4 linked regions of the Homo sapiens genome follow. The protein of the gene in region 1 interacts with the protein of each later gene in a biochemical or structural test. Each region holds a gene or a part of one and is shown in the gene's direction. Other genes may lie near its edges.

What was found.
Region 2: the proteins of SETD7 (region 1) and SIRT1 form a complex in vitro, tested with the Homo sapiens proteins (one study listed by BioGRID and IntAct).
Region 3: of the proteins of SETD7 (region 1) and PPP1R12A, one has a biochemical effect on the other in vitro, tested with the Homo sapiens proteins (one study listed by BioGRID).
Region 4: of the proteins of SETD7 (region 1) and SOX2, one has a biochemical effect on the other in vitro, tested with the Homo sapiens proteins (one study listed by BioGRID).

What each region holds. Positions count from the first base shown.
Region 1 is NC_000004.12:139,546,220-139,553,249, reverse strand, and holds part of SETD7 (histone-lysine N-methyltransferase SETD7), read left to right. Parts: intron 1-5,130; exon of another isoform or gene 5,131-5,231; intron 5,232-6,200; coding exon 6,201-6,330; intron 6,331-7,030. UniProt on the Homo sapiens protein: Histone methyltransferase that specifically monomethylates 'Lys-4' of histone H3. H3 'Lys-4' methylation represents a specific tag for epigenetic transcriptional activation.
Region 2 is NC_000010.11:67,901,656-67,908,655, forward strand, and holds part of SIRT1 (NAD-dependent protein deacetylase sirtuin-1), read left to right. Parts: intron 1-4,507; exon of another isoform or gene 4,508-4,599; coding exon of another isoform or gene 4,600-4,632; intron 4,633-5,134; coding exon 5,135-5,282; intron 5,283-6,390; coding exon 6,391-6,470; intron 6,471-7,000. UniProt on the Homo sapiens protein: NAD-dependent protein deacetylase that links transcriptional regulation directly to intracellular energetics and participates in the coordination of several separated cellular functions such as cell cycle, response to DNA damage, metabolism, apoptosis and autophagy.
Region 3 is NC_000012.12:79,932,091-79,939,939, reverse strand, and holds the start of PPP1R12A (protein phosphatase 1 regulatory subunit 12A), read left to right. Parts: upstream 1-4,842; 5' UTR 4,843-5,008; coding exon 5,009-5,245; intron 5,246-7,849. UniProt on the Homo sapiens protein: Key regulator of protein phosphatase 1C (PPP1C). Mediates binding to myosin. As part of the PPP1C complex, involved in dephosphorylation of PLK1. Capable of inhibiting HIF1AN-dependent suppression of HIF1A activity.
Region 4 is NC_000003.12:181,707,154-181,714,940, forward strand, and holds SOX2 (transcription factor SOX-2), read left to right. Parts: upstream 1-4,771; 5' UTR 4,772-5,207; coding exon 5,208-6,161; 3' UTR 6,162-7,283; downstream 7,284-7,787. UniProt on the Homo sapiens protein: Transcription factor that forms a trimeric complex with OCT4 on DNA and controls the expression of a number of genes involved in embryonic development such as YES1, FGF4, UTF1 and ZFP206. Binds to the proximal enhancer region of NANOG.

The sequences.
Region 1 (7,030 bases):
TAAATGTCTTATATATCATGTGCATTTGGTTCTCTGTCAGGGTATGATTGTAACTCTGGGAAAGTTCTGAACTCAGAGTGGACAATTCCCTGAGGTGAGGGGAGTGGCGGAGGCTGTGTCGAGAGAGTGTTCTGTGTACTGTGTTGGCTGTGCTCTTGTGGGAAGAAGGCAGCAAGCCCTGGGCCTCAGAGGACCTCAGAGCTCCACCTGAGCTCTGGTGTGGCTTTTGGAAAACACTTTGAGACACACTGGTTCAGTGAAGAGTGATGTTTAGTTTTCCAGTGTTATTCCCCTGGGCATCTGGAAACAGAAATTTATCACAGCATCTATTTCTTTGTCTACCCATAGATACAAAGATGAATATGATGTGGTCTCTAATATGATTTCAAATAAATATATCTATACAGATGAATTGTGATGGTTGAGAGGAAGTAAAAATTAGTTCCAGCTTAGGGAAGTCAAAGGGGAAAGATTTTCCAGAAGAGGTGCCATAGAGCTGAGTCAGGTTGAGAGGGGAACTTTGTGAGTGAAGACACGGAGGCATGGAATTCTGCGGGTGCACCCAGAGAACAGTCATTTGATTTTGCTGCAACATGGAGCTTACAAGGAGAAAAGTGGAGGGGAAGACAGGGAAAGGAGGCTGGGTAGCAGGCTGAGAGCATGGACTGTGTGCTGGAAGCCATGGAAGCCGTGGGGGCTCTTTAGAAAAGGGAATGACAGGATCAAGGCTCCACTCCGGGAAGAGGAACAGGCAGTGGCCAGCAGGACAGTCAGAGGGGCTGACACAGCAGATGAGGTACCTTGAAGTCTCTTTGCAGTGGTCCAGATGCACAGTTATGATGGCAGGAAAAACAGAAGGGCCTGGAAATGTGTAGGAGACATGGAGGAAGAATGATCAAAAAGGGGAAATATCAGAACAAGGGGCCAGAATGAAAATAAGCAGCTCAGTGTTCCACTGCCACAACCCCTTCAAAATATTAAGAATATTTTTTATTAACACTCCCCCTAATATCAGATTCTACTTGTCTCTGCTAAGAGTGCTCATGCCCTGTATCTAGGGAAAATGCATATGAAGTGTATTTGTAGCACCCTTTCTGTGTGGGCCACACATTAAAATCATGACCCTCACAATTAATAGATGAACCCTTGCCAACAATTACCCTTAAAAAAAATTATCCAGGTAACAAACTTTCATATGTACCCCCGGATCTAAAATAAAAGTTGAAATAATTTTTTAAAAACCTAAAAAATTAAAAAATTTTAAAAAGATCAAAACATCAAGTTATGTTTTTAAGAGTTGGTGATTGAATGCATCACCAGGAGGGCATGTTCTTTGCATTAAACAGAATAAGCTTGCCTTTTATTATTGTTGTTTTTTGTTTTTCAATTTATTTATTTATTTAATGAGATGGGGTCTCACTGTATTGCCCAGACTGGTCTCCTGGGCTCAAGAGATCCACCTTGGCTTCCCAAAGTGCTGGGATTACAGGCATGAGCCACCGCGCCCGGCCTATTAATTGTTGTTTTTTAAAGCAATGTTCTAGTGTACAAAACCAACAGTGTGTGCGTAGGGTCTCTGGTTCTAAGGGAAATACTCACACGCCACTCTCAGATCTCTTGTGAGTAAGCCTGAGACATTAAGCAGCTGGGTGTCTGATCCAGAGGGAATTTACTTTGCTGAGATTGAGATGTACATTGCTGCTTAGAATATAGGCCTGGCTCTTATCAGATTCAGGAAGAAGCTCCCTCAGAAGTAACTAGAGGGGAAAATTGTAACTTTCTATCTGTTCAATAGATAATGACCATAGAATAAAGTGAAAAAGTAGACTTGTGAACTGATACTTTTTTCCTTTCTCTAACTTCTGTAAATATTTAAAATCATGCTACAGACAGATACACAGAACATTAGCTCCGGCAACCTTAAAAACACAGAGCAGTCATTCAAGTTAATTTTCCCTGTTGCTTGGGCCTGGTATTCACCCTCTGTTCAGTGGGAACTCGCCTGGAAGGCTGTTGGCTGACTTGGCGCATTTTACAAATTGACCTCATGCAGAGCAAGGAGGACTAGTGTTTCCCTTCAAGTTAGATAACACTTGGAAGAGATAGGACTTTGCAACCGGGACATGCTGTTGGAAACCTGGTGGTTCTGTGTGAATGATCTTAACCACAAAGCCTTCTTCCACTTCCCTGCCAGGGACCTGGGGGTTCCTACCTTTTTAGAGGTACCTTCTTACCATCACCAAGGAAGAGTGTGTTCAACTAGTTTGCCAGTGTCTAGAATGGGAATTAAAGGATTTGGAGAAGGGGCTTTCAGTATTCATCAGCACACTCAGTGTGGCAATGTCTCTTGGGCAAGTCTCATAAAGCATTGGTGTCTTCATCTGTAAGATGAGAATATGGGAGACTGTTTTGAGGCTTACATTTGATAACAGGAAAGCATATAACCCAATGCCGATCATAGTAGATTCATACACTTTTTTTCTCCTCTGTTTATCAGTACCCCTGTGCATTAAATTGACTTACTGACATGACAAAATATTACATGATCTTATTGTCCAAATATTAATGATCTTATTGGCATTTGAAAAAGTTATGTCAGATTCTGTTCTAGCACTAATGTTGAAAGAAGATGTAAGAGCACTGCAACCTAGTCTCTTCTCTTTCTCATGGAAAGTCTCTGTTATTGTTTTGGTTGTGGCTGCTGTTTTAGACATAAAGTTCTACTGCTAGGAAAACTAATCCGGGATATTAAATATTCAGAGTGGAAGTCTCGAATGATCACAACCCTTAATCTCTAGTTCCTTTAATTGATCACACCCTAGGGATGTAAAGAAAACAAAACAAGCCAGGAAGAGGCTCCTGCTGTCGTCGAATAGATTTCAGAATTCTCTCACAACCAGCAATCTAAAAGCCTTCAGAATGATAGGGAGTGGTCACATGTCCAAGCACCTCCTTAATGTGCAAGGTCACCAGAGTAATGGCCATCATTTGGTAGCTCTCCCCTGACCTTGTCTCTCCCAAGAGATTAAGATGATGATAGGGCTCCTCTTCATTTGCCTGTTGAAAGGCACTGAGGCCAGGTGTGGTGGTTCTTGCCTGTAATCCCAGCACCCAAAGTGGGTGGACCACTTGAGCTCAGGAGTTTGAGACCAGCCTGGGCAACACAGTGAGACCCTATCTCTATAAAAAAAAATTTTTAATTAGCCGTTTTGGAGGCTGAGGTGGGTAGATTGCCTGAGGTCAGAAGTTCGAGACCAGCCTGGCCAATATAGTGAAACCTCATCTCTACTAAAAATACAAAAAAATAAGCTGGGCTTGGTGGCAGGTGCCTGTAATCCCAGCTACTAGGGAGGCTGAGGCAGGACAATTGCTTGCACCCGGGAGGCGGAGGTTGCAGTGAGCCAAGATCGCACCATTGCACTCCAGTCTGGACAAAAAGAGTAAAACTCTGTCTCAAAAAAAAATTTTTTTTTTTAAATTAGCCAGTTGTGGTGATGTCTACCTATAGTCCCAGCTACATTGGAGGCTGAGGCAGAAGGATCACTTGAGCCTACAAGTTGAGGTTACAGTGAACTATGGTCTCATCACTGCACTCCAGCCTGAGTAACAGGGTGAGACCCTGTCTCTAAAAAATAAAGGAAGGAGGAAGAGAAAGAGGGAAGGAGGGAGTGAGGTAAGAAAGGAAGAAAAGGAGAGAAGGAGGGAGGGAGGCAAAAAGGGAGGAAGGAAGGAAGGAATAATTCTTCATGGAGTGGAGTTGACATTTTTGTTGTCATCTCAACTGGGATCAGTACTATCCTCCAAGGGCTTACAGTATGTTATATGACACTTTCAACTTTCCCTAATATCTAAATTCCATTGCTGAGGGTGCACCTTCAGTGTTTTATTCAGAAATAGCACAGGGCTGAAGGAAGGTGGAAATTAATTTATATTGGACATTTTTTTCTTAGTGTTCAGATTTATTGTAATTCTCTCAATCTAAAGTGGAATAACACATTTTATCAAACATAAGCTTTTAAAACTCTGAAATATGTGAACTGTTTTCTATGGTGAAAGCATTTTCAACAAGTTAATAAATGCTCTAGTATGAGGCTAAACTGATTATTTGGATATTAATACCTAAATCAAAAGTAGGACACTGAATTTATATGCCTAAATTTAACTTGATCGCAACAACATTTCACTAAAAAAAGCTCTTAGCAATACACTGAGTGGCTTTTTTTAATGAAAAGAAAAAAGCAAATTTAATTTATTTCAATGAGAGAAATGGCATCAGATATTTAGAAAATAATTGTCCAAGTGATTTCATATGACTCAAATGTCATTGAATTTATGTCATGTACAATTAGTTTTTGAGCGAGAAGAAAGCAATTATGGCCTAGTTCCCTTCTGACCATTAATTTCCTGGGCCTTTCCTCTTTTGTGTTAAGAGGAAGGGATCCATATTGATTATGATTTATTTAAGTAGATGTGTCTTATTGTAAGATGTTCTAGGTAACCCATTGTATACAGAGTCAGATGTAGCAATAAAACACTGTAGTTGTTTGCAGCTATTTTATGTTTATGTAATTAATGATACAAATAAAGAGCATATTTATTCTTTTTATTGTTGTTGTTGAGATGGAGTTTCATTCTTGTTGCCCACGCTGGAGTGCAGTGGCACAATTTTGGCTCACTGCAACCTCTGCTTCCTGGGTTCAAGCGATTCTCCTGCCTCAGCCTCCTGAGTAGCTGGGATTACAGACGTCCGCCACCATGCCTGGCTAATTTTTTGTATTTTTAGTAAAGACGGGGTTTCACTGTGTTGGCCAGGCTGGTCTCAAACTCTGGACCTAGGGTGATCCACCCACCTCAGCCTCCCAAAGTGCTGGGATTATAGGCGTGAGCCACCATGCCCGGCCGCATATTTATTCTTTATAAGAGTGTGTACTTACCATCTTTTCCAAGGGCTAATATTCTTTTATCATGTTAGAATAAATTATTTGAGGAGACTAAAGCTTTCACTGTGGTAGTATGGTTTGTGTTGCCTTTTATGTCTGTGAGCCATCTGGAAGCTACATTTCAATGTTTAATGTCCCTGCATTAGACACAGTGTTTAATGTTTTCATACCTTTTCTCTCCATGACCCAGGTTATTACCCCAAGAAAAAGCCAGTAGAATAACTACTGCCTTCATTTTCACCCACCTCTGCAAAATCAGCTCACCAGAATGATTGGGAAGACACCAATAAGGTGATTCCTGGGTTTTGTAAAACATGTAGATAGTAATAAAAAGCATAAACATTGACTGTAAATGTCAGTATTAAACTATACCAATCTTTGACCTAGGAATAACCAGTGACTTAAAAGTCCATGTAATAACTTCTGCTGATGTTCACAATCATTGCTTAAATGACCATGTGCATACTCTGGCTCCATTTAAAACACAAGCCCTCTGAGACACAGTGGTGGACGGTATAGGATAAGGTTATTACTAAACATTCAAAGCTGAAAGATTTTGTAAAGTAAACCAGTAGGTTTAAGGTTAAGCTTAAGTTTAAGGTGAGAAGGACTCTGGGTTTCTGTGTTTGTACAATGAGCTATATAAATCTTAGGGCAGTTTTAAAGATATGACACTGTTCCTTGTGTGAATATAACAATAACAGTGAGATTTTCAGACTGGCTAGCAGTCCTCCACATCATATTATAGAATGATGTATAAAATCATATTGCATACTTAATGTTCTAGAATTAGATAATTTATTCCAAAGACTGTGTATGTGGCAATTGACTATAAAACAGTGGAATCTCAACCACACTTCAGTTAAGCATGAGAGATTGGAGGCATCAATTCCAAATATGAGGACTCTCGGGAGAGTACTTGGTAAATTGTGACATGCCCTGCAGATAATATTACTGATAATGACTCTCAGTTCCAGGTAAAAAGCAAGCTTATTTAAAGTTCATATTCTGGAATGTGTCTAAGTCTGTTCTGGACCTATCAGTTCACAAAGTGTACATAACAATCAATTTGGTACTGCTGGTGCCGATGAGGTGAGAAACTTTTGCACGCTGACTACCCTTTCTTTCCAGGGAGGGGACCCTTTGGCAGCTGGAGGGGAGTTGGGTGGGGGACTTGTCTGGCAGCATCTGAATGCTTAGACGTCAGATGGGAGGAGCACTGAAGATGTTAAGGTTTGCCTTGTGGTTCCCTTTCTCCAGGGCACCTGGACGATGACGGATTACCGCACGGGTTCTGCACAGTCACCTACTCCTCCACAGACAGATTTGAGGGGAACTTTGTTCACGGAGAAAAGAACGGACGGGGGAAGTTCTTCTTCTTTGATGGCAGGTAGCACTCACAGTTTTATTTTGTTCTTTGGGGGTACCGAATTATTTTATGTTAAGGACTAATACAAACGAAAGAATTCAAGTGGAAGTTTTTCTACAATTTATTCAATGGGTAAAATTAACCCCTACCTGTAGGCACTGCTTTGGTGACTGGGGAAGTCACCCTGTGGTTATGGGACAGCCAGCCTAAGGCTTAGCTCTTGTCATCACTGTCTCCCAGAGTGTGCTTGGCCAAAAGATACCAGATTTGGGGGCCCCCATCTTGCATAAGTTGGTTACATGGTCACCCAATTCTTTGATGGATTTCACTTGATCATTCCGGTAGCGCATCTCCCTGAAGTCACACAAGTGGGGATCGTTTTTGTCAGTGGCCAGTTTGCACAGTTCCAGTAAAGTCAGATTCACACTTTTTTCCAAGGGTCACACACACTCTATTGCGTTCAGCACACTCTCCCAGATGTCACAATCTGGCATCTTAGTACCCCGAAGCAAGATTCTGCCACCTTGTTGGTTCTTCTGCTTCATCGGTTTCTCAGCTTGTTGCCTCTCCTCATGAGATTGATGAAAAAATGCTTGGCAAAGTTCTTCAAAGCCACATCATTGCAGTCCCAGTAATAAGACATAAACAGGTACACACAGGAGGGCAACTCTCTAGACTTCAATTTTTTAAATGCCTGTCTTTGGGATAGTTGGTCTTTTTG
Region 2 (7,000 bases), on another chromosome or scaffold:
GGTACATACTAAAATTTATTAAGTGGCGACTGGCAGTTTAACTAATTGACATTCTCTTGTGTTAGGTTAATACAGGGGTTGGCGTACTATGGCCTCAGTCCAAATGTGGCCCACTCCATGTTTTTGTATAGGCTGTGAGCTAAGCATTAAGCATTAATTTATTACTTAAATCAACAAATAAAGTTTATGTGGTGTACAACATGATGTTTTGATGTGTGTACATTATGGAATGGCTAACTCAAGCTAATATTCATTACTTCACATACTTTTTTTTGGTGGTGAGAACATTTAAAATGTACTCTTAATAATTTTCAGGTATACAATATTTGTTTTTGTTTTTGTTTTTGTTTTGAGACGAAGTCTCGCTCTTGTCCCCAGGCTGGAGTGCAGTGGCGCTATCTTGGCTCACTGCAACCTCCGCCTCCCAGGTACAAGCGATTCTCCTGCCTCAGCCTCCCAAGTAGCTGGGATTACAGGCGCCTGTCTCCACGCCCGGCTAGTTATTGTATTTTTAGTAAAGACAGGGTTTCACCATGTTGGCCAGGCTGGTCTCAAACTCCTGACCTCAGGTGATCCGCCTGCCTCAGCCTCCCAAAGTGCTGGGATTACAGGCGTGAGCCACCGCGCCCGGCTACAATATGTTCTTAATTATAGTCAGCAATAGATCTCCTGAACTTATTCTTCCCAGCGTCTTCCCAATCCCACCTCCACCCCCTGCTAATAATTAATTTTAAATGACTGGGGAAAAAATTGAAAGAACTGTTTCATGACACTTGAACATTATATAAAATTTTCATGTCAGTGTTCATAAATACAAACTTTTATTAGAACATAGCCATACTATTTATATATTGAAATACAGTTGAATTTGTCATATGACCAATTTATTAGTATTGATTAAGATGTTGAGCAGTTTATTCAAGTGTGGTTTTGTGGAATGAAAGAGACAGGAGGGATTATGAGGACTCTCCTTAGCAGGATTGATGCATTTCACTTTTTTTGACAGGAAGGAAAGTTTAGGTTCTATTTTCTCAGCAACTCTACTTAACTGCCTCCATCTGAACTATATATAGGAGGGGGTGGATATCAGCAAAGATTAACATCAGTAAATTTTGATGAATTCTCTAAAAATTCTGATTTTTAAAGAGGGAATTTTGGCTGGGCACAGTGGCTCACACCTGTAATCCTAAGCACTTTGGGAGGCCAAGGCAGGTGGATCACCTGAGGTCTGGAGTTTGAGACCAGCCTGGCCAACATGGTGAAACCCTGTCTCTACTAAAAACAAATTAGCTGAATGTGGTGGCGCGCACCTGTAGTCCCAGCTCCTTGGGAGGCTGAGGTGGGAGAATTGCCTAAACCCAGGAGAGGTGGAGGTTGCAGTGAGCCGAGATTGTGCCATTGCACTCCATCCTGGGTGACAGAGCGAGACTCTCAAAAAAAAAGGTGGGTGTGAATTTTGTTATGTTGTGCGGGCTGGAGTGTAGTGCCCATCCATTGGCACGATCATAGAGTACTACAGCTCCCTAACTCCCAGACTCAAGTGATTCTCCCTCCTCTGTCTCCCCAGTAGCAGGAACTACAGGCCTGTGCCACCATGCCCAGCTTTCTTAGTCTTGAGGGACTGCATTTACACCTATGCCTTTTACTCTAGGGTCTTTTATTCATATTGCTAGAAATTTGGAGAAGAAAGAAAGGCATAATCTCTGCAGAAAAGCCATTATTTCTGCAGATAGTTCTTTTTTTTTTTGAGATGGAGTCTTTCTTTGTCACCCAGGCTGGAGTGCAGTGGTGTGATCTAGGCTCACTACAAGCTCCACCTCCTGGGTTCACGCCATTCTCCTGCCTTAGCCTCCCGAGTAGTGGGACTACAGGCACCCGCCACCATGCCCAGCTAATTTTTTTTTGTATTTTTTAGTAGAGACGGGGTTTCACCATCTTAGCCAGGATGGTCTCGATCTTCTGACCTTGTGATCCGCCGACCTCGGCCACCCAAAGTGCTGGGATTACAGGCATGAGCCACCACATCCGGCCAATTTCTGCGGATAGTTCTAAGCTTTAGTTTTGACCACGTTGGTTGCCTATGGCCAATTCCTGGATTATTTGCATGTTTCCAGACACAGCTATGTGAAAGCAGGGTTTGTTTTAATAGTGTTTTGAGCCTTTGATTCCAGTTCTGCTTCCACTCTTGGTCTATAAGGATCCCTATGGCAGCAACAGAATGGCCCAGCCCTCATGATTGGTTGCTTAAAAAGGCTTTAGGATATTCAAACTGGGTGGCCTGTCTTGTTTGGAATAGGACTAAGCATGTCACACTTTCACCATGGAAGAGTTAATCCATATTCTATCTGTAAGTTGTATCTCCAGTCATTGGTTTTCAACAAGTGGTCCTATCTTAGGAGGAGTGGTATATTAGAACAGTCCTTCCAGAGTAATTTTTTTCATTATTTCAGATTTTTTAGTTTTTTTTGTTTGTTTTTTTTTTTTTTTTTTTTAAAGGCTCTCACTCTGTCACCCAGGCTGGAGAGCAGTGATACGATCATAGCTCACTGGAACCTCTACCTCCCTGGGCTCAGGTGATCCTCCCACCTCAGCCTTCTGAGTTTCTGGGACTACAGGCATGAACCGTGAGGCCCAGCTAATTTTTGTGATTTTTGTGTTTTTTGTAGAGTCAGGGTTTCTCCATGTTGCCCAGGCTGGTCTCGTACTCCTGGTCTCAAGTAACCTGCCCGCCTCGGCCTTCCAAAGTGCTGGGATTAGAGGTGTGAGCCACCACACCTGTACTACTACTTTTAGTTTGAACACTATATTTAAATCTAATAATTCAGACATGGCCCATTTCATACTTGACAGAAAGTATGAGTCAAAGACTCAAATCATTCAGATTCTCACATATGTAAAACGTACGCTTGGCCGGGTGCAGTGGCTCACGCCTGTAATCCCAGCACTTTGTGAGACCAAGGTGGGCGGATCACCTGAGGTCAGGAGTTCAAGACCAGCCTGACCAACATGGAGAAACCCCGTCTCTACTAAAAATACAAAATTAGCTGGGGTGGTGGCACATGCCTGTAATCCCAGCTATTCAGGAAGCTGAGGCAGGAGAATCACTTGAACCCGGGAGGTGGAGGTTGTGGTGAGCTGAGATCGCGCCATTGCACTCCAGCCTGGGCAAAAAGAGCGAAACTCTGTCTCAAAAAAAAAAAAAAAAGCAGGCTTATAAAATAAAACAAAAATGTCCCTTATGATTTGTCTTAAAGGTAGTTGAATTAATAAGAGCTAAATCTAGTGTCCCATACATCTTTGTGTTTCTTACTCTACCCTTTAGAAAGGGTGGGGGTGGACGTGGATAAGGCACACAGTTAATTCAGGGACGGTGGAGTCTTGGTACTTGCTCTTTTTCCCTGACCTTGCTTTGGAGTTATTTTATTTTTTAAATTCTGCATTTGGCATGCTATTATCACTTGCTTACTATTATAGGTCCTATTTTATCTGTTGCCTAGCATATTCTCATAGTGCCTAAAATACTCTAAAAGCTATTTCCAGAGGGAGCTTTAATGAGACATACAATGCTTAATCTCTCAAATGTAAATGTACTAGAACAAAGCATTCTGGGGAAGAAAACAGTGGTTGATTTAACTGAACTCACTTTTCCAAAACAGTGGCTTTTGATTTTCTGTAAACATTGACTTTATTAAGCTTTTCCCTTGCTACTATATGCACTCTCTATTTCTTAAATTGCAAAGAGTTATTCATGAAATTTGTGATAAATATTTGAATCTAAGGCAACGTTTTTGGATTCTTTATACGAGGTTTTTAGCAGCATGTGTACATGTATGTGATAGCTGTTAACGGAATTCACTTAAGTTTTACTTAGAAGCCTGGGTAGTAGAACCTAGAAGTTGCAGTGGGAATTTTTTTTTAATTTGAAAGATTAAATAGGTAAAAAGTCATCTTTAATCTCTATTAAACTTTTTTGTATAATGTCAGAAGTGAAAGTTCCCCACATCTGCTTACAGCCTGTTTGTATCCTTCCTGACTTGATTGATTAAATGGACATCTCTATATACATATGCATATAATTTCAATTTTTGCTTAGTAACAAAAACAAAAGTTACACATACTGGTGACTAATTTGCTTTTTTCACGTATGTCATGAACCATTTTCCAGGGCAGTTCATCTAGATCTCCCTCAATTCTTTTTAATGGCTACATATTCCACTATTATGGATGTACCATATTTATACAACCGGTTCCCTATTGATGGACATATGGTTGTGTCTAGTTTTTTGCTAGCATTGTGATAGATTAGAGCCTGTAATGAATGGTAAGGAAGTAAGTAGATGATAGCACTACTACTTTGAAGGAAAAAGTAGAGAATAAACTTCCTTTGCCATAGTCACTTACTAAATGGAATTTAATAAAAACACTGTCAAAAGTTGGGAGGACCAAAATTGATACTTTTTCTCTGATCTTTTTGCCATGTGTATATCTGAATTCTTTGTTTTTAAAGAAGAAACAGCATTGAAGCATTATTTGGGGGGAAAAACACACACACAAAATCCAGCAACTCAGCATTCATGAGCAACTCTATACTATACCAGTATGTGCCTGTGCAGTGGAAGGAAAACAATTTTGGTAAGGATTAAAACTTTAGCTTTAAACTTCCAGCAGGTTGATATTCTAATGAATGATAAATCAAAAAAAAATTTTAAATATTCTTGTATTGACAGTGCTTTTTTTTTTAAATCACCCTACCTTGATATCTGTAATTTTAGTTTAAACTTTCCCATTTTTCTTTAAAGAAAAAAATCTGAATTTGCAGCCAACAAAAATTAGATATCCTAAGGTTGTATTACTTCTGACTTTTATTAAAATATCAACATTTCTTAGAGATGTTTATGGGCCGACTTTGTCTTTTTCTTCAAGGGGCCAAGTTCACTAATTGCTGAGTTTTATGCATATGACAGCAACCGTCCTTTTGTAGGTGTGTGTCGCATCCATCTAGATACTTTAAAATGCTCATCTATTTCATTTTTAAAATTATGTGTGTGGGATTATCAGTATTTTTTTGTTAAACATATGACATCTGTAGTTTATTTCACTAATGTAAATTTTTTCTACCATTTGCTTGATACAGGAAATATATCCTGGACAATTCCAGCCATCTCTCTGTCACAAATTCATAGCCTTGTCAGATAAGGAAGGAAAACTACTTCGCAACTATACCCAGAACATAGACACGCTGGAACAGGTTGCGGGAATCCAAAGGATAATTCAGTGTCATGGTTAGTAAACTTCAGAGTGGTTTTCTGTAATTTATTTTAGTTTTATAGGAAGATATTTCCTATAAAGCTGACTGCCATCGAGAAGTGGAGATAAAGCATTATTTAATCATGTTATCTCATTTATCGATAACCTCAGAAAAGTAGAAAACAAAAATAATAAAAACAGAAGTATTGGCCTTGACAGTTAATTATAGAAAACCTCAGATATTAATTTGCTTTTGATTTCAAAAGATGCTGCAGTTGCATGCATTCAATTATTTTAAATAATCTTTTCTGGCTGAGTGCAGTGGCTCACGCCTGTAATCCTAGCACTTTGGGAAGCCGAGGCGGGCAGATCCCATGAAGCCAAGAGTTCGAGAACAGCTTGGCCAACATGGTGAAATCCCAACTCTACTAGAAATACTAAAATTAGCCGGGCATGGTGGCAGGCGCCTGTAATCCCAGCTACTCAGGAGGCTGAGGCACGAGAATCACTTGAACCTGGGAGTTGGAGGTTGCAGCGAGCCAAGATTGCACCATTGCGCTCCAGCCTGGGAGACAGTGAGACTCTGTCAAAAAAAAAAAAAAAAAAGAAAAAGAAATTCTGAATACAAGAGTAGTATTAGCTGTTAATGAAGAAATGTGACATCTTTAGTTTATGAAACTAAAAGAACTGGATAGTTGAGATGTACAGGATTCAGAGATTCAGAAATGTTTAAAACAAGTATCAACAGGCCATTAGGTATCTAAAGTGTTTCTAAGAACTGCCGAGCTAAGGTAATAGAGTTGGAACTGTCCAACTCTGCAGGATTTTAGCCCTGGAGGAGTGAGCTGTTACAGTTTTGTTGAAAAGAGTAGCTTTAGAAGGCATCATTATATTAGTGTCTCAGAGATTGAGAATCATATTCATTCTATGTATAAATATATAAATTCTTCATCCCCTAGATTCTCCTGTAGTATATCACAAAATCTGCAGTGTGTTCTGAGGTTTAAAATCAAAGTTAAAAACAAAAACAAAAATCCTTAAACCCTCTTAACATTTGTGATGTTAAACTTTATAACGTTTGTGGTGTGTTCAAGAAACAGAAATACTTCTTTAATAAAGCATATATATGTTGTTTGTTTTTAGGTTCCTTTGCAACAGCATCTTGCCTGATTTGTAAATACAAAGTTGACTGTGAAGCTGTACGAGGAGATATTTTTAATCAGGTAATTTGTTGCCCATATTTTAGGAATTGTTCATGTCTCTGAAGTATTTCTTCTTTTGCCTCAAAATCCTTTTTTACCCCTTTAAAGTATATATGGTACAGAAAGATTCAGGAAGAAAATAGTTAGCATTTGGGAATTTTGGTAAAATACACGAGAACCTTTCAATACCTTATATAGAAAACAGCCCTATAAAGGCTCTTCAAATTATGAAATTGGCTTCTTAGTATCTAAGCCGAACATAAAATGTCAGATCATAAGCAAGTTGTTGTTGTAGTAGTTTTTCTCCTTCCTCTCCCTTTTTGTGCCTGTCAGATTTGGACCTTAAATTAGTTATGGTAATCTAAAATTATTTCATACATGTTCATTGCCAAAAAATATAGGAAAATTTGGCAGAAAATAAAAATTATCCAGAAATATGTCCTGTGTGCTTAGCAATATATGGAGGTAATCATGTCATTACGAAAGAGGAAGAATAGTATATTAAAATGGAGTCATTGGTCGGGTGCAGTGGCTCATGCTTGTAATCCCAG
Region 3 (7,849 bases), on another chromosome or scaffold:
AAAATTGAGCACGGTCAGCATGTTTTGGTTCTCATGAATACCTTGTTTTTGCACTCTGGTCTGTGAAGGAATTTTAAAGCTTTTCCTAGGATTTGATTTGAAGGACAATTGAATGGATCCCTCAACTAAATATTAGTGATCCAAGATAGAACTCATGCACCTAAACTTGCCTTCCAGATATTGATCTTGTAATTTATTCTTCTAATTTCAGTGCCATGGAGAATGACTCTTATTTCTGAAATTCCTTCAGCACACAGATATTTTCATACAAATTGGCCTTCCTGCCAATGCCTTGCCTTGACACCTTGAGTTGGGGGTGCCACTAAGGCCTATCCTATAACCTTCACTTAATTAATCGTAATTATTATTACACATACTAATTAAAGTCAGTCAGTTTCCTAAAGTGTAGGACATGTAGACTGGTGGTACATGAGGTAATGTTATAAGGTAGATGTAACATTAAAACAACAGTGAAGCACTTAGCACAATATTCTTTTTTCACTACCTTTTAATCTTTCCGATTATGCTAAACTGAAAAATCTTAGGTTGATGCTCACATGTCCAACCCTTACCAATATCCCTTTTTTAACAAATTGAGAGCACAGCTTGGGCTCAGACCCTTGACAGACAACCTAACTAATGTTTTGTTTTCATTGTATTTGCTTTAACAGTCTTCTTTATGTCAAGTGGAAACGTTTTTCACTTACCAAAGCAACATAATGTTGCTTTAAAATAAATTTGTCTTAAAAAGGTTAAAGAAAACATTAAGCAAATACTAGTATTTGCGGTTCTTGAATTTGGCAATAAAACTGATAAAGTTTGGGAAACATTAATTCATATGAAAGGGGCATGTGATGTTCTGTCACATGATACAGGTTGGGAGTCATGTGCAATGGAGGTGAGTTATCTCTTTAGCAGTATAACTGCACTTTGGATTGTTGCCAGACACTCATCTGAGTCCTAGTTTTGGGGAACAAAAGAAGCTTTATGAGCATATTAGCCAGTACTTGTACTGTGATAGGGTTAGTTTCTTGAAATGGAGTCAGATGTGGCAGAAAATTTACCCTAAAGTAAATTAGAAACTCACCTTGTAATCCAGAGGCAAGGCAAAGATTAGATGCTATGATCTAGAAATCAGGATTGATCTAGCAATGGAGTCTGAAGCAAGTTAGGGTGGTTCCATGTTGGTTCTGGTCAACTCCCTGGGTAGGACTAAATAAATTATGATGTGAATGGATTGTAAACTTTTCTTCAAGTTCTTTTTTTTTTTCTTTTTGAGACAGAGTCTTGCTCTGTCACCCAGGCTGGAATGCAGTGGCACAATCTTGGCTCACTGCAACCTCCGCCTTCTGGTTCAAGTAATTCTCATGTATTCTCGGGTTCAGCCTCCCGAGTAGCTGAGATTACAGGCACGTGCCACCACGCCCAGCTAATTTTTGTATTTTTAGTAGAGACGGGGGTTTTGCCATGTTGGCCAGGCTGGTCTCGAACTACTAACCTCAGGTGATCTGCCCACGTGGGCCTCCCAAAGCCCTGGGATTACAGGCATGAGCCACCGTGCCCAGCCTTTTCTTCAGGTTCTTAAATAAAACATTGGAAAGAAATTATTATGCAATGGAAGAGAGTTTGGCCCAGGTGTAGAATACAGGAGACAGAAACAAGGTCCTTGTTGACTGTTCTATTCTCAAGTGTATAAATGTAAATTAGTATCTCAGGTTTAAATTAGGGATAAAGAGAACATAGATATATCAAAGTATTTATTAATATCTTATGTACATTTTTAACAAAGAGATTATAATAGCAGAAACAAATCTAAGCTGTGCATGTCAGCATTTCAAATATGTTTATAATTTAAATTAAGTTGATCATAATTAGCAAGCAAATTAATGGTAAGGAATGTCAGTAGTGTGATTAAACTTTGAAAAAGATATACACAGATCTCATTCTGACAATCTTGTGCATGTAATAAATAAAACCCCCAGCCAGGTACAGTGGCTCAAGCCTGTAATCCCAACACTTTAAGAAGCCAAGGCAGAGGATCACTTGAGCCCAGGAGTTTGAGACCAGCCTGGACAACATAGGTAGACCCCATCTTTACAAAACTTAAAAAATAAATTAGCTAAGCCTGGTGGTGCACGCGCCTGTAGTCTCAGCTACTTGGGAGGCTGAGATCATGCCTCTGCACTGCAGCCTGAGCGATAGAGTGAGACCCTGTCTCAGAAACAAAAACCTCCAATATGATTGATTTGGTGCAGCCAAAAATATATTTTTATATATACATATATGCAAATTAGTAAGTATAGTTTTATTTGTACTTCTATTTTAAGGCTTAATTTGCTTTAAAGGAGCTAAAATGTATCCTCACATCCCAATCTGTTTAGAAGCCATTAGGAAGTGAAAATATTTGCATTTTTTCCATTTGTTCTGCTTAGACAAATATGTAATAAAAGCATGTGTGTGTGTGTGTGTGTCTTTTTTTTTTTTTTTTGGTAAAGATAGGGTCTAGCTCTGTCGCTCAGGTTGTAGTGCAGAGAGCTCACTGCAGCCTCGAACTCCTGGGCAGAGTTCGCCTCAGCCTCTCAAAGTGATAGGATTACAGGTGTGAGCCACTGTGCTGGGACTGTGTGTGTCAATAAAAAATTTTGCTTGTTCTAGAATTAACCCAAGGTCTTCAGTACCATTAATTCACTAACAACAATTTAAAAAAAATCCTCCCTAAAGACAAAGTAGGTGGCAGTTTCAGAGTACTTTCAATATTAACATAGAGCATCTTGACCCTTAGAGCCACGAAAGAAGAAAAACTAAATTCAGTGAAATTTGCACATGATAGCAGCCCTCCTTGGTTGTTTTTTCCCTGACAGCTTCTGGGAACTGAATGAACTTAATTATGTTTTATTAATAAACTATTATTAATTTTGCATCCTGAAATAAGTGCTTGAATCAGGAATAGCATACTTCCCACTAAATTCCTTTTGCCTGAATGAAATCTTCAGATTCCCATCTATACTGCAAGGGCACTTTAAGAGCTACCACATAGGCCATAACGTTCTTGGAAAACAGGATATGCTGTCAGTTGCCTAGGTAGAGACAGGAGCTGACAAGGCAATCCTCAAGTTCCTTTCTTTTATTCTGAGAGCTGTATTCTGTGGATAGGGATTTTGTATTTTAGTGCTAACAATGTTTTTCAGTACCTAACACCATGAGTATTCAAAGGTCTGATGTTATCTTTAATGTATGTAATGAACATACAATGGTATATCTTATGAATATTACATTCATTTTCTATTCCTACAACGTTTTCAGAGGAAATATTTTTACCCTGACCTGGATTCTATCGCTATCCTAATAACTGTGGTTCAGAAAATTGTCTCACAGGCAGACAGTTTCCTAATCACGTTTTACTCAATTATTTTATTTCTCAATATGATAGGCTGTGAAGTAGTCCACTGGAAAAGGCATCATGCTGAGAGTAAGAAAAGCTTATTTGTTCACTGCTCTATCTCCAGCACCTAGAACAATGCCTGACCCAGAACAGGTGCATAGTATTTGCTGAGTGAATTCTAATCCTACTTCTGGGTAAAATTAAGTAAATTAATTAGTTCTTGAGGGACTCTGTCTAGATGACCCCTAAACTTCCATGGTAAGGTTTTGTGGTTTTTATCTTGGCTTTTCTAAATGCTCTAAAAATAGTAGTGGATGGTAACAATGCAGTGTTCAGTAAAATCAATTGGTGGAGATTGTAGATAGATGGCTCATAAGACATCAGTATTACAAATCCTATGTGTGTGCGCGTGTGGTCATACAAGGCAAAGTTAAAGTCTTTTTTTTATGACGATGATAAATTAGTCTTGTTTGGGCGACTGAACTCAAGAGGTGGTTCAAATAAATGTCATATTTTTCATTGTATCTTCAGTGCCTAGTACAGTTACTGGCTCATAGTAGGTATTCAATAAATAGTGGTTGAATTAATTGCCTTCCTTAACGTTCCGTTTAAATGCTAGACGCAGCTAGGTCTTTACCCCTCCTTAGAAAGAGATGGAGCTGTAACCAGAAATCCCTTAAAAGGTAAGGACCAGTAATCAGGCTGAGCTAAGCTCATGGGTAGTACGAGACAGGCTTAAAGCACTGAAGGAAGAAAGAAGAGAACCCAAGCGTGAGAGAAAGCAAAACAAAACAAGTAAAGAGAGGAAGAAAAACATTTCTAAAGTGGGGGTTGGCAGGAAGCCACAGCAATTACAGCAGGTCAACCCTTGTCAATAGGTGGTCACCTCAAGAACTTACCATTAAAACCCTCGGCCACACAGACCCCACTTTTAAAAGGTTATTAATTCTGACATGCCCAAGTTCATCTGAGTTCCTTAGAAAGATCAACCAGCAGCACCTACTTCACGACCTATCCTCCATTCCATTCAAATAACGCGGCCAATAGGAAAATCCTCCGCCCTGAGCCAACGACTCGGCGTAGCTGAGACAGCACGGGAGGCAGATCTGCCCTGTAGAGCCTTGCGGTTCCACTGCTGGCCTCCGGATTCCCGGGAGCCCCCAGCCCGACAGGACAACCTTCCTTCCCCGCTTCCTCCTTTCCAGGTCTGTCCCAGCCCCCGCTGCCTGGGCCACACCCGCTTCCCTCTGGTGGCCCAGCCACCACCGCCGCAGTTCGCGGGAGCGCTCTTCCTGGGGCGGGCACAGGCCCAGGGCGCATGCGCACTGGTCGAAGGGCGCCTCCCAGTCCGGATCTCGCGAAGTTACGTTAGATTGGCCGCCGGTGACGGGTGGCCGTGCTGGGGGCGGGAGGGCTTCTGTGGTAGGAAGGGAGGTCCGCTCGGCCGGGTGCGCCGCCCCAGTGCTCTGTGGGATACTGGAAGTCTCGAGCGTCGGCTCCGGGTTCCCAGCCCTCCTCTGGCCCGCACTCATAGAAACATTCACACACCCCCTGCCTCCCCTCTCTTCCCTCTCCGCCTCCCCCTTCCCCCCCTCGCGATAAGAAGACCCGGCGGCAGGAGAGGGGATGAAGATGGCGGACGCGAAGCAGAAGCGGAACGAGCAGCTGAAACGCTGGATCGGCTCCGAGACGGACCTCGAGCCTCCGGTGGTGAAGCGCCAGAAGACCAAGGTGAAGTTCGACGATGGCGCCGTCTTCCTGGCTGCTTGCTCCAGCGGCGACACGGACGAGGTCCTCAAGCTGCTGCACCGCGGCGCCGACATCAATTACGCCAATGTGGACGGACTCACTGCCCTGCACCAGGTCTGTGCGCCCCGCCGCCGGCTCTCCTGACCGTGAGGGTTCTCGTCGGCCTCCTGCTCGGGCCTGCCCTCAGTTCTCCACCTCTTGAGGCTGGGGGCGGCGGGAGACTCCCTGCTGCGGGGTGAGGGGGCGGTTTCCCCAGAGGGCGGGAGGGAGAGCTGGTGGAAGGGAGGGCGCTGGGCTTGAGGCCCCCCTTCAGAACAGTTGCTGGTGGAGTTGGGAACCGGGTGATTTCCGGGGCATAGGGGAAAAGGAACTGTGGTCGTTTGGGGCCCCAGGGCCATTCGTGGATAAGTCTGGGATTTGGGGTCGAGACAAGGAGGGGTGTAGTGGGGTTGTGCCTGGGCCCCGGTGTCAGTGGTATATTCGGAGGGGTGGATGCTGAAGGAAGAAAACTAACAAGGGGCATTACGGACGGTTAGGCAGATGAACATCTTTGACTTGTAGGTGGGCATTGGATTTGTTGCACTTTTTAGGACTTGATTACAAATGATGATAATAATAGTAATCTAGAGCCCTAAGCCGAGTGCCCTGAACGAACGATTTCCTGTTTTCTCATTTATTACTCTTGGTCACTGGGGAGGGGAAAACAGGGTGTAATTAGCTGATCTGCACCGGCTGAAAGGAAGGGGATGGAAGTGGGTAGAGTAAGGAAGCCCTCTAAAGGGCTTGCCCACCTCCGGACCGGAACGTGTTGAGTCTGATACTCGAAGTTTGCCGCAGTGTCAGAGATCCTTGAGCCCCAGGTCCTCGGGTGTGCACTGGTGTTAGAAAGAGAAGAATAAATAGGGGACACTCTTTTCAAAGCCGGTTACCAAGCTCTGGTTTTTCTTTTGGGGTTGGGAAAAAAGAAAGCTGGTCACAAACTTTTCTCAAAATGGATGCTTTGTGCATATTAAAGTTTTATAGTAGTCTGATTGGGATCTCTCAATGTTAGCCAAATAAGGAGAAACTATTGGCAATCCAGAGATAATGTTGCCTTGCCTTTAACAGGCCAAAAGCAACACAACCACGTAGAGTTATGCATAAAAAGCAATTTTTAAGTGACGGTAATAGGTGACAAAACATAGGCTTTTTCTATTTTCTTAGCGGGCAACTTGGAATAACTGTAATAGAAAATGACTTTGCAGCGATAGCTTCCCCTTAACAATGAAAAGACTTGTAAGCTATCTCAAAGTTGCCTTGGTTGTGTGTGGAAGATGCATAGCCTTATTTTGAATAATGTTGTAGTAAAAACTTGTTTGGGAGGTTGAAACTCAAGGCTTTATATTTCATGAATATTAACTTGATGCCTTTTAAAAAAAAGGTGTGTAGTGACATTTTTCCTTGTCCTGCTTACTGTTTAAGGGAGTGATGACCATTTTAAATTTTGTGTAATGGAATTCTCTTATCAGACTTGGAGTATAGCCTTTGTTTACAAAGTTGACTGGATATATTGAAATGATTGACACATTGCAGGACAAATATGGAATTAAAAATGTGGCACCCAGTAAAAATATAGCAGGGTGTCTAGCGCTTTCTCAATTTCATTAATTTAGATTCTCTAATGCATAGCAAACTTTTTATTTGGGTGAAGTTTATTTAAGGCATATCATAACTCGTAAAATTTTAAAACCATGGTGTTGAGAATGAAGGAAACTTTTGGCATTAAAAATGATAATGTAATTATATAAGATGAATCTTCAAATTTCTTTCAAGTGTACTTTACACGTTTTAGTGTGAAACAGATTTTGAAAGACGATTATTACTGTAGGAGGTCAGGATAATTGGATAATGGTTCGCATCAATATGTTTTATTCAAATTGTCAAATAGAAATTTAAAGTTACTATTGTTGTGGAGGAACCCAGTTGTATTGGCTTAGAGGAAGACGAAAAGTTTTGATATTTACATTATTGTGATACTGGTTTAGGGAGGAAGAGAAAATACATTTAACTGCCTTCTTAAGATCTTTTTTTCTCCTCTCAATATTCACACGTTACAAGAATTGTCAGACTTACCAATGTCTTCCTGATTAACTGAATTCAGTGGTCAGTTTGGTGTTGTGTAGATATATCTTTATTGGGTATTTTGTTTTAGTTGACAAACAGAAGTTTCTAAATTTACTCCATTTGCGTAATATCTTTCTGTCACTTTTTGTCACTGTGAGTGTGGGTTTGACCCGATAATCTCCAACCGCCTCCCCTTTTCCATAACATTTTTCCATATCTGCAAATGCCTTAAATCGGTGAAGCCAAAGTCTTTAAAATATCAAGCATTAAAAATTTGTGTTATGTTTTCTTCACTCTCATTTCTTATTTATCAACTCTTGTACTTTTTTCCCATTGTTACTATGAAAACAGGGAGTTCACTTTGGGCAAATTTAGGACAACAGTTAGTGAAAGACAATAAATAAAATTAAAAACCACACACACACAAGAAAATTTTAAGCCTTTAAGAAATCTCTTGAACTTAGCTTGTTTTCCATACTTAATTGTAAAAACTAAAATCACTGATTTAATAGTCCTTGAATAGTTCTTTAAAACTTTAACCTCTCAAAAGATCGTAGAATACCTAAAATGTATAACGGGGTTAATTGTTGATTGTTTTTTGAATATTCATTTACT
Region 4 (7,787 bases), on another chromosome or scaffold:
TTGACAATGGTACAATTCAGTTTTGAATTTTTGCTCTTACTTTCTATATCCTAACCTTTTCCAGCTTATTTCTTGTTAATTGTTTTTGGAAAGTATGCAATGCTCTTTTAAGGGAAAAAAAATCTTCTAATGCACTTATTTACCTTCATTTATATGTGTTTGTTTCTGAAATGAAGAATCAAGCTTTGGTCATTCCGGAAGTCGTGTAGCATGCTCCAATTTGAAGTGACTGAGATCTTTTGTGACTTACAGAGGAGAAGGAAATGTTTTAAAAATTGGCTTATGCCAGTCTCCTTACTCTGAAATTCTCAATTTTCTTGTATTACAGGATAAATATAAATATCATCTCACCAAATTGTACCAGCATTGTCCTAAACATTTAAATTTTCCTTTATTTTTGGCCTTTAAAATTAGAAAATTTTCTCCAGTTGCTGCACTTAGCTTTTTAATTTTGTTTTCTTTTCACTTACCAGACTACTGGTATGATCTCTTTCACTGCAGTATGATTGCTGCTATGGTCACTTTTAGAGGAGATTGTGGGAAGGTTAGGATTTGGAGGAAACATGACAAAAAAGGGAAGAAAAAAAAAAACCTTCATTTGACCACATCTGGCTGCTTGTATATTTAACCAGTTCTAGAATTAGAAAACCTTTCTGTACATTTTCTTCTATTTTTCTCACTTTTTTCCTTACATAATGAAATTAAAACTTTTGGAGCCTACAGTTGACATTTTTCAGAAAATTGAGTTATCAAGGCAGTAATTATTTCACGGGGAGATAAAACTCTCATAGCCCTAACTGTCAAATAGGGCCCTTTTCAGATTTTAATTACAAAATAAAATTAGTCTGCTCTTCCTCAGAATGGTTTGTGAGTGGTTAAACAGAGCTTTCCCCCAATACTGGTGGTCGTCAAACTCTGCTAATTAGCAATGCTGAGAAATTCCAGTTAACAAGGACATTCTCCAAGACTCTGCAGGTTCCCTGCCGTTTGCCTTCATTTCCATAAGAAGATTAAGAGAGGAGGGGAACACACTCAAATGCAGATGCAGAAAAGAAGCGTTTTTTAACAAGCATCATAATAGTAAGATGCTTGGCTAGTTCTCACCTAATTACTGCAAGTTAAACCTCTATTTGACACTAAGAAGAAAAAATAAGTCTACAGTCCCCTGTCTCCACAAAATTGTTAGTTGGTTTCAGATATAATACTTGAGGAGTGCTGAGGAGACTTTAGGAGAGAAAAATCAATGTGCAAGATTTTGAAATAAAATTGAGTTACACTTAACAGTTAAGGCCTTTTGGCTAGGGCCTATAATAGAACAAAATAAAATCAGAATATTCCAGGAGTCATGCATTTTTGTTACTAACTACTAATCTTGCTCTAAAAGTATGTAGCTTTTTGTTGCCCGTGGAAGGGAAGTGTTACACTCCCTTTAGATTAAGCACTTTCAATTTTCGTAAATTGTGCCAATGGCAACATTTTAGATTCTCAGAGGATGAAGCATCCTGTTCCAAGTCTTTTTTGATTGTCTAGTAGTCAATGGTATATTGTTGTTAGTACTGTAGCTGTCTATTACAAACCTAAAACAGTGTTGCTTCTGTCATCTATTGGAATCGTTATAGTTATTATATTTAGGGATCAGTGATGGTGCTGGATTGAAATAGAGTGGGCAGTGATCTGATTTTTTAAAATGCATATGTTCTAAAAAATCTAATGAGAAAATGTTCCTGCTATCACCATCTTCTTTAATCTTATTTTCATAGCACATTATTATGCATAATCGCCAGCCACAGTTAGTTTATTGTCTCGATAAGTACAGCAGGCTTAATTAAAATAAAGCTGTAAATAAATGCAACCAATGATAACACAATTGTAACGTAATTCCATAGCTTATTAATGTGATAAAAGCAATTAATAAAAGACCTAGCCAACCCCTTTAACCTCTTAAATACATTATTATAGAGTTCATGCACAAACACATGCATCTGAGAATGTGTAAAAGTTGTTATATATCCTCCCAAGGAAAAAAATTGTGCCTTGAGAGAAAGGCAACGAGATTTAAAAGATTTGTGTCTATAACCGTCTGTTATTAGTATTTATTTTAACAAATATACACCACCCTTATCCACACCAATTCCTTGGTTGTTTCTTCAAACAATTATCCACAAGCTTTTTAAAGTTTTTAGAATAATGCTATTAAGCAGACCGATGCATACACAATCATAAAGTGAATTCTTGGTCTGCCCTTTGTGGCGTCTGGACAATCATAATTCATTCACATGTTGAATCTCATAATTTGTACCTATTTTTTCCCATGGTCTAACCTCCCACTTACCTCGAGGTTGTATGTATATTTCTAAGTTAGGCAAATTAAATCTGATTCTTATGATTTGGTTCCGCAGCTTATAAGATATGTTAACTTTTCTTTTGTTTAGATTATGTATAATTAGTCTGATCTTCCATCCCCCTCTTTTTTTTTTTTTTACTTTAATTATTTTCAAATACCTTCTTTTAAAGGTAAAAGCAATAGTCTTGGAAAAGCGAATCTACCAGCAGGGGGCGCACCAGCCACATCCCTGAAACCAGCCGCGCTGAAAAGCCGGTGGCCGCCTTCTCTTCCCCAGATCTTCTCAACCTTTTCTCTTTCCTAATCTCCAGGTCCGTGTTTACCTTAATATTACACCTGGATTAAACAGAAAACAGTGCTGTATTTTGAAGAGCGCCGAATATGTATGCATTTTGAGAAACCCAATCTCACCCTTTCCGGGTTCCCAAGAACTAAAACAAGCCATAACTTGAGAGAAAAAGGAGAACCTTCGGGGGGCAGGAAGGTTGATTGGAAATAACTTAAGGAAAGTCTGCAGAATTCTTTTTTTTACAACTTTTCTGAGTTTCCAGTGGGTATATTTAGTGTGAGTTTGACAGTAACAGGCTAGGGAGGGCAGAGATTGGAGAAATTGGGGGTCGGGGGAGTGATTATGGGAAGAAGGTTAGTAAGGAACAAAACAATGCACCGTTTTGTAAAGATAATAAATGGAACGTGGCTGGTAGATACTATTCAGTACATTTTCTTAGGGTGAGTAAGGGTAGACCAGGGGAGGAGGGGGCGGAGAGAGTGTTACAGAAGAAAGAAAATAAGTAACCCTGATGGTTTAAGCCCTTTATAAAAAAGAAATGGCATCAGGTTTTTTTTTCTTTATTCCCCCCCACCCCACCCTTTGTAGTCAAGTGCATTTTAGCCACAAAGATCCCAACAAGAGAGTGGAAGGAAACTTAGACGAGGCTTTGTTTGACTCCGTGTAGCGACAACAAGAGAAACAAAACTACCTATTTGTAACGGACGTGCTGCCATTGCCCTCCGCATTGAGCGCCTACCTATTGAAATCTTTACGTCGGGACAATGGGAGAGCGGCTAAAATTACCCTCTTGGGTCCTGGGCGGGCAAGATTCCTGAGCCCCTACCCCCGCCCCCATCTCATCCTCCTCTAACCCGGGCCTTGCTGGGCTCCCCCTTCCCCAGTCCCGGCCGCCTTCTCCCAGTGTGCGCTGCCTGCACCTGTGCCTGGAGAGCATCGACCCCGCCTCCCAGGCCTTGAGCCCCTTTGCGGCGCAGCCCCAGCCTTGCGCGGCCTGGGCTTTGCGGCCACCACAATGGAAATCTACGGGGAAAATGCCAGGGCTGGTTCTGCTGGAGTCCTGGGAACTCTGCGTGGGAGGGAGTTTGTGACTGCGGCCCAAAAGCCACCTCCATACAGTGCCGTGGGATGCCAGGAAGTTGAAATCACCCTCCCCCATCGCCTGCACTTTTGAGCGCCCTTCCGTCTGTGTCTTTCCCCAGCCCCCATTTGAAAGCCGCACGACCGAAACCCTTCTTACGGGGAGGCATGGGATGGGAATGGGGAGTGGGGGCAGACAGTAGAAGCATCCCCTTTGCTACGGTTGAATGAAGACAGTCTAGTGGGAGATGTGGCTGGGGCTAAGAGGAAGAGCTGCAGTTTCCTGGGCCAAAGAGCTGAGTTGGACAGGGAGATGGCAGCTTACCAAGGCCTGCTGGTTCTCAGCTCTAGAGTCTGCCTTATGGTCCGAGCAGGATTTATTTTTAAGAACAGAGCAAGTTACGTGGAAGCAAGGAAGGTTTTGAGGACAGAGGTTTGGGTCTCCTAACTTCTAGTCGGGACTGTGAGAAGGGCGTGAGAGAGTGTTGGCACCTGTAAGGTAAGAGAGGAGAGCGGAAGAGCGCAGTACGGGAGCGGCACCAGAGGGGCTGGAGTTGGGGGGGAGTGCTGTGGATGAGCGGGAGAACAATGACACACCAACTCCTGCACTGGCTGTTTCCAGAAATACGAGTTGGACAGCCGCCCTGAGCCACCCACTGTGCCCTGCCCCACCCCCGCACCTTAGCTGCTTCCCGCGTCCCATCCTCATTTAAGTACCCTGCACCAAAAAGTAAATCAATATTAAGTTTAAAGAAAAAAAAACCCACGTAGTCTTAGTGCTGTTTACCCACTTCCTTCGAAAAGGCGTGTGGTGTGACCTGTTGCTGCGAGAGGGGATACAAAGGTTTCTCAGTGGCTGGCAGGCTGGCTCTGGGAGCCTCCTCCCCCTCCTCGCCTGCCCCCTCCTCCCCCGGCCTCCCCCGCGCGGCCGGCGGCGCGGGAGGCCCCGCCCCCTTTCATGCAAAACCCGGCAGCGAGGCTGGGCTCGAGTGGAGGAGCCGCCGCGCGCTGATTGGTCGCTAGAAACCCATTTATTCCCTGACAGCCCCCGTCACATGGATGGTTGTCTATTAACTTGTTCAAAAAAGTATCAGGAGTTGTCAAGGCAGAGAAGAGAGTGTTTGCAAAAGGGGGAAAGTAGTTTGCTGCCTCTTTAAGACTAGGACTGAGAGAAAGAAGAGGAGAGAGAAAGAAAGGGAGAGAAGTTTGAGCCCCAGGCTTAAGCCTTTCCAAAAAATAATAATAACAATCATCGGCGGCGGCAGGATCGGCCAGAGGAGGAGGGAAGCGCTTTTTTTGATCCTGATTCCAGTTTGCCTCTCTCTTTTTTTCCCCCAAATTATTCTTCGCCTGATTTTCCTCGCGGAGCCCTGCGCTCCCGACACCCCCGCCCGCCTCCCCTCCTCCTCTCCCCCCGCCCGCGGGCCCCCCAAAGTCCCGGCCGGGCCGAGGGTCGGCGGCCGCCGGCGGGCCGGGCCCGCGCACAGCGCCCGCATGTACAACATGATGGAGACGGAGCTGAAGCCGCCGGGCCCGCAGCAAACTTCGGGGGGCGGCGGCGGCAACTCCACCGCGGCGGCGGCCGGCGGCAACCAGAAAAACAGCCCGGACCGCGTCAAGCGGCCCATGAATGCCTTCATGGTGTGGTCCCGCGGGCAGCGGCGCAAGATGGCCCAGGAGAACCCCAAGATGCACAACTCGGAGATCAGCAAGCGCCTGGGCGCCGAGTGGAAACTTTTGTCGGAGACGGAGAAGCGGCCGTTCATCGACGAGGCTAAGCGGCTGCGAGCGCTGCACATGAAGGAGCACCCGGATTATAAATACCGGCCCCGGCGGAAAACCAAGACGCTCATGAAGAAGGATAAGTACACGCTGCCCGGCGGGCTGCTGGCCCCCGGCGGCAATAGCATGGCGAGCGGGGTCGGGGTGGGCGCCGGCCTGGGCGCGGGCGTGAACCAGCGCATGGACAGTTACGCGCACATGAACGGCTGGAGCAACGGCAGCTACAGCATGATGCAGGACCAGCTGGGCTACCCGCAGCACCCGGGCCTCAATGCGCACGGCGCAGCGCAGATGCAGCCCATGCACCGCTACGACGTGAGCGCCCTGCAGTACAACTCCATGACCAGCTCGCAGACCTACATGAACGGCTCGCCCACCTACAGCATGTCCTACTCGCAGCAGGGCACCCCTGGCATGGCTCTTGGCTCCATGGGTTCGGTGGTCAAGTCCGAGGCCAGCTCCAGCCCCCCTGTGGTTACCTCTTCCTCCCACTCCAGGGCGCCCTGCCAGGCCGGGGACCTCCGGGACATGATCAGCATGTATCTCCCCGGCGCCGAGGTGCCGGAACCCGCCGCCCCCAGCAGACTTCACATGTCCCAGCACTACCAGAGCGGCCCGGTGCCCGGCACGGCCATTAACGGCACACTGCCCCTCTCACACATGTGAGGGCCGGACAGCGAACTGGAGGGGGGAGAAATTTTCAAAGAAAAACGAGGGAAATGGGAGGGGTGCAAAAGAGGAGAGTAAGAAACAGCATGGAGAAAACCCGGTACGCTCAAAAAGAAAAAGGAAAAAAAAAAATCCCATCACCCACAGCAAATGACAGCTGCAAAAGAGAACACCAATCCCATCCACACTCACGCAAAAACCGCGATGCCGACAAGAAAACTTTTATGAGAGAGATCCTGGACTTCTTTTTGGGGGACTATTTTTGTACAGAGAAAACCTGGGGAGGGTGGGGAGGGCGGGGGAATGGACCTTGTATAGATCTGGAGGAAAGAAAGCTACGAAAAACTTTTTAAAAGTTCTAGTGGTACGGTAGGAGCTTTGCAGGAAGTTTGCAAAAGTCTTTACCAATAATATTTAGAGCTAGTCTCCAAGCGACGAAAAAAATGTTTTAATATTTGCAAGCAACTTTTGTACAGTATTTATCGAGATAAACATGGCAATCAAAATGTCCATTGTTTATAAGCTGAGAATTTGCCAATATTTTTCAAGGAGAGGCTTCTTGCTGAATTTTGATTCTGCAGCTGAAATTTAGGACAGTTGCAAACGTGAAAAGAAGAAAATTATTCAAATTTGGACATTTTAATTGTTTAAAAATTGTACAAAAGGAAAAAATTAGAATAAGTACTGGCGAACCATCTCTGTGGTCTTGTTTAAAAAGGGCAAAAGTTTTAGACTGTACTAAATTTTATAACTTACTGTTAAAAGCAAAAATGGCCATGCAGGTTGACACCGTTGGTAATTTATAATAGCTTTTGTTCGATCCCAACTTTCCATTTTGTTCAGATAAAAAAAACCATGAAATTACTGTGTTTGAAATATTTTCTTATGGTTTGTAATATTTCTGTAAATTTATTGTGATATTTTAAGGTTTTCCCCCCTTTATTTTCCGTAGTTGTATTTTAAAAGATTCGGCTCTGTATTATTTGAATCAGTCTGCCGAGAATCCATGTATATATTTGAACTAATATCATCCTTATAACAGGTACATTTTCAACTTAAGTTTTTACTCCATTATGCACAGTTTGAGATAAATAAATTTTTGAAATATGGACACTGAAATTATTCTTGAGTCTTTCATTTATTTGGATAACACTGTGATTATACATAACTTTTCGGGGAATTATAATACTGTGCTCAGCCAAGAAAGCAAAATACCAAAAACCTTGGTATTACTAGTCCAGCATCATGTGCTAATGTTAACTGCAAAAAAGAAACGGCTGGATGATTAATAAGTACTGGAAAAATTGAAATTTCTGTCATTTCTAAAATAGAAACTAGAGACATATATTGTAAATCCGCCCCCTCCTTTTCTAAGCAGCATGAATAAGCATGATGGGGACCTATACTTAAAACTGATTTATGCCACTTGTTGCCAGAAAGGATTCAATTCTGAAATTTTTCATGTAGTTTAGCAGATGGGATATTGAGCCAAATCAGAACCAGGTTGGCTGGTTTTGTTTTCATTTTCTTCACAGCACAATGGCCCTTTGAAACCTGGCTATAGAGAAAAATGATGCTTCTTGTATCAGAATAATTGCAAACTAGACATGCAAAGTGTTCATC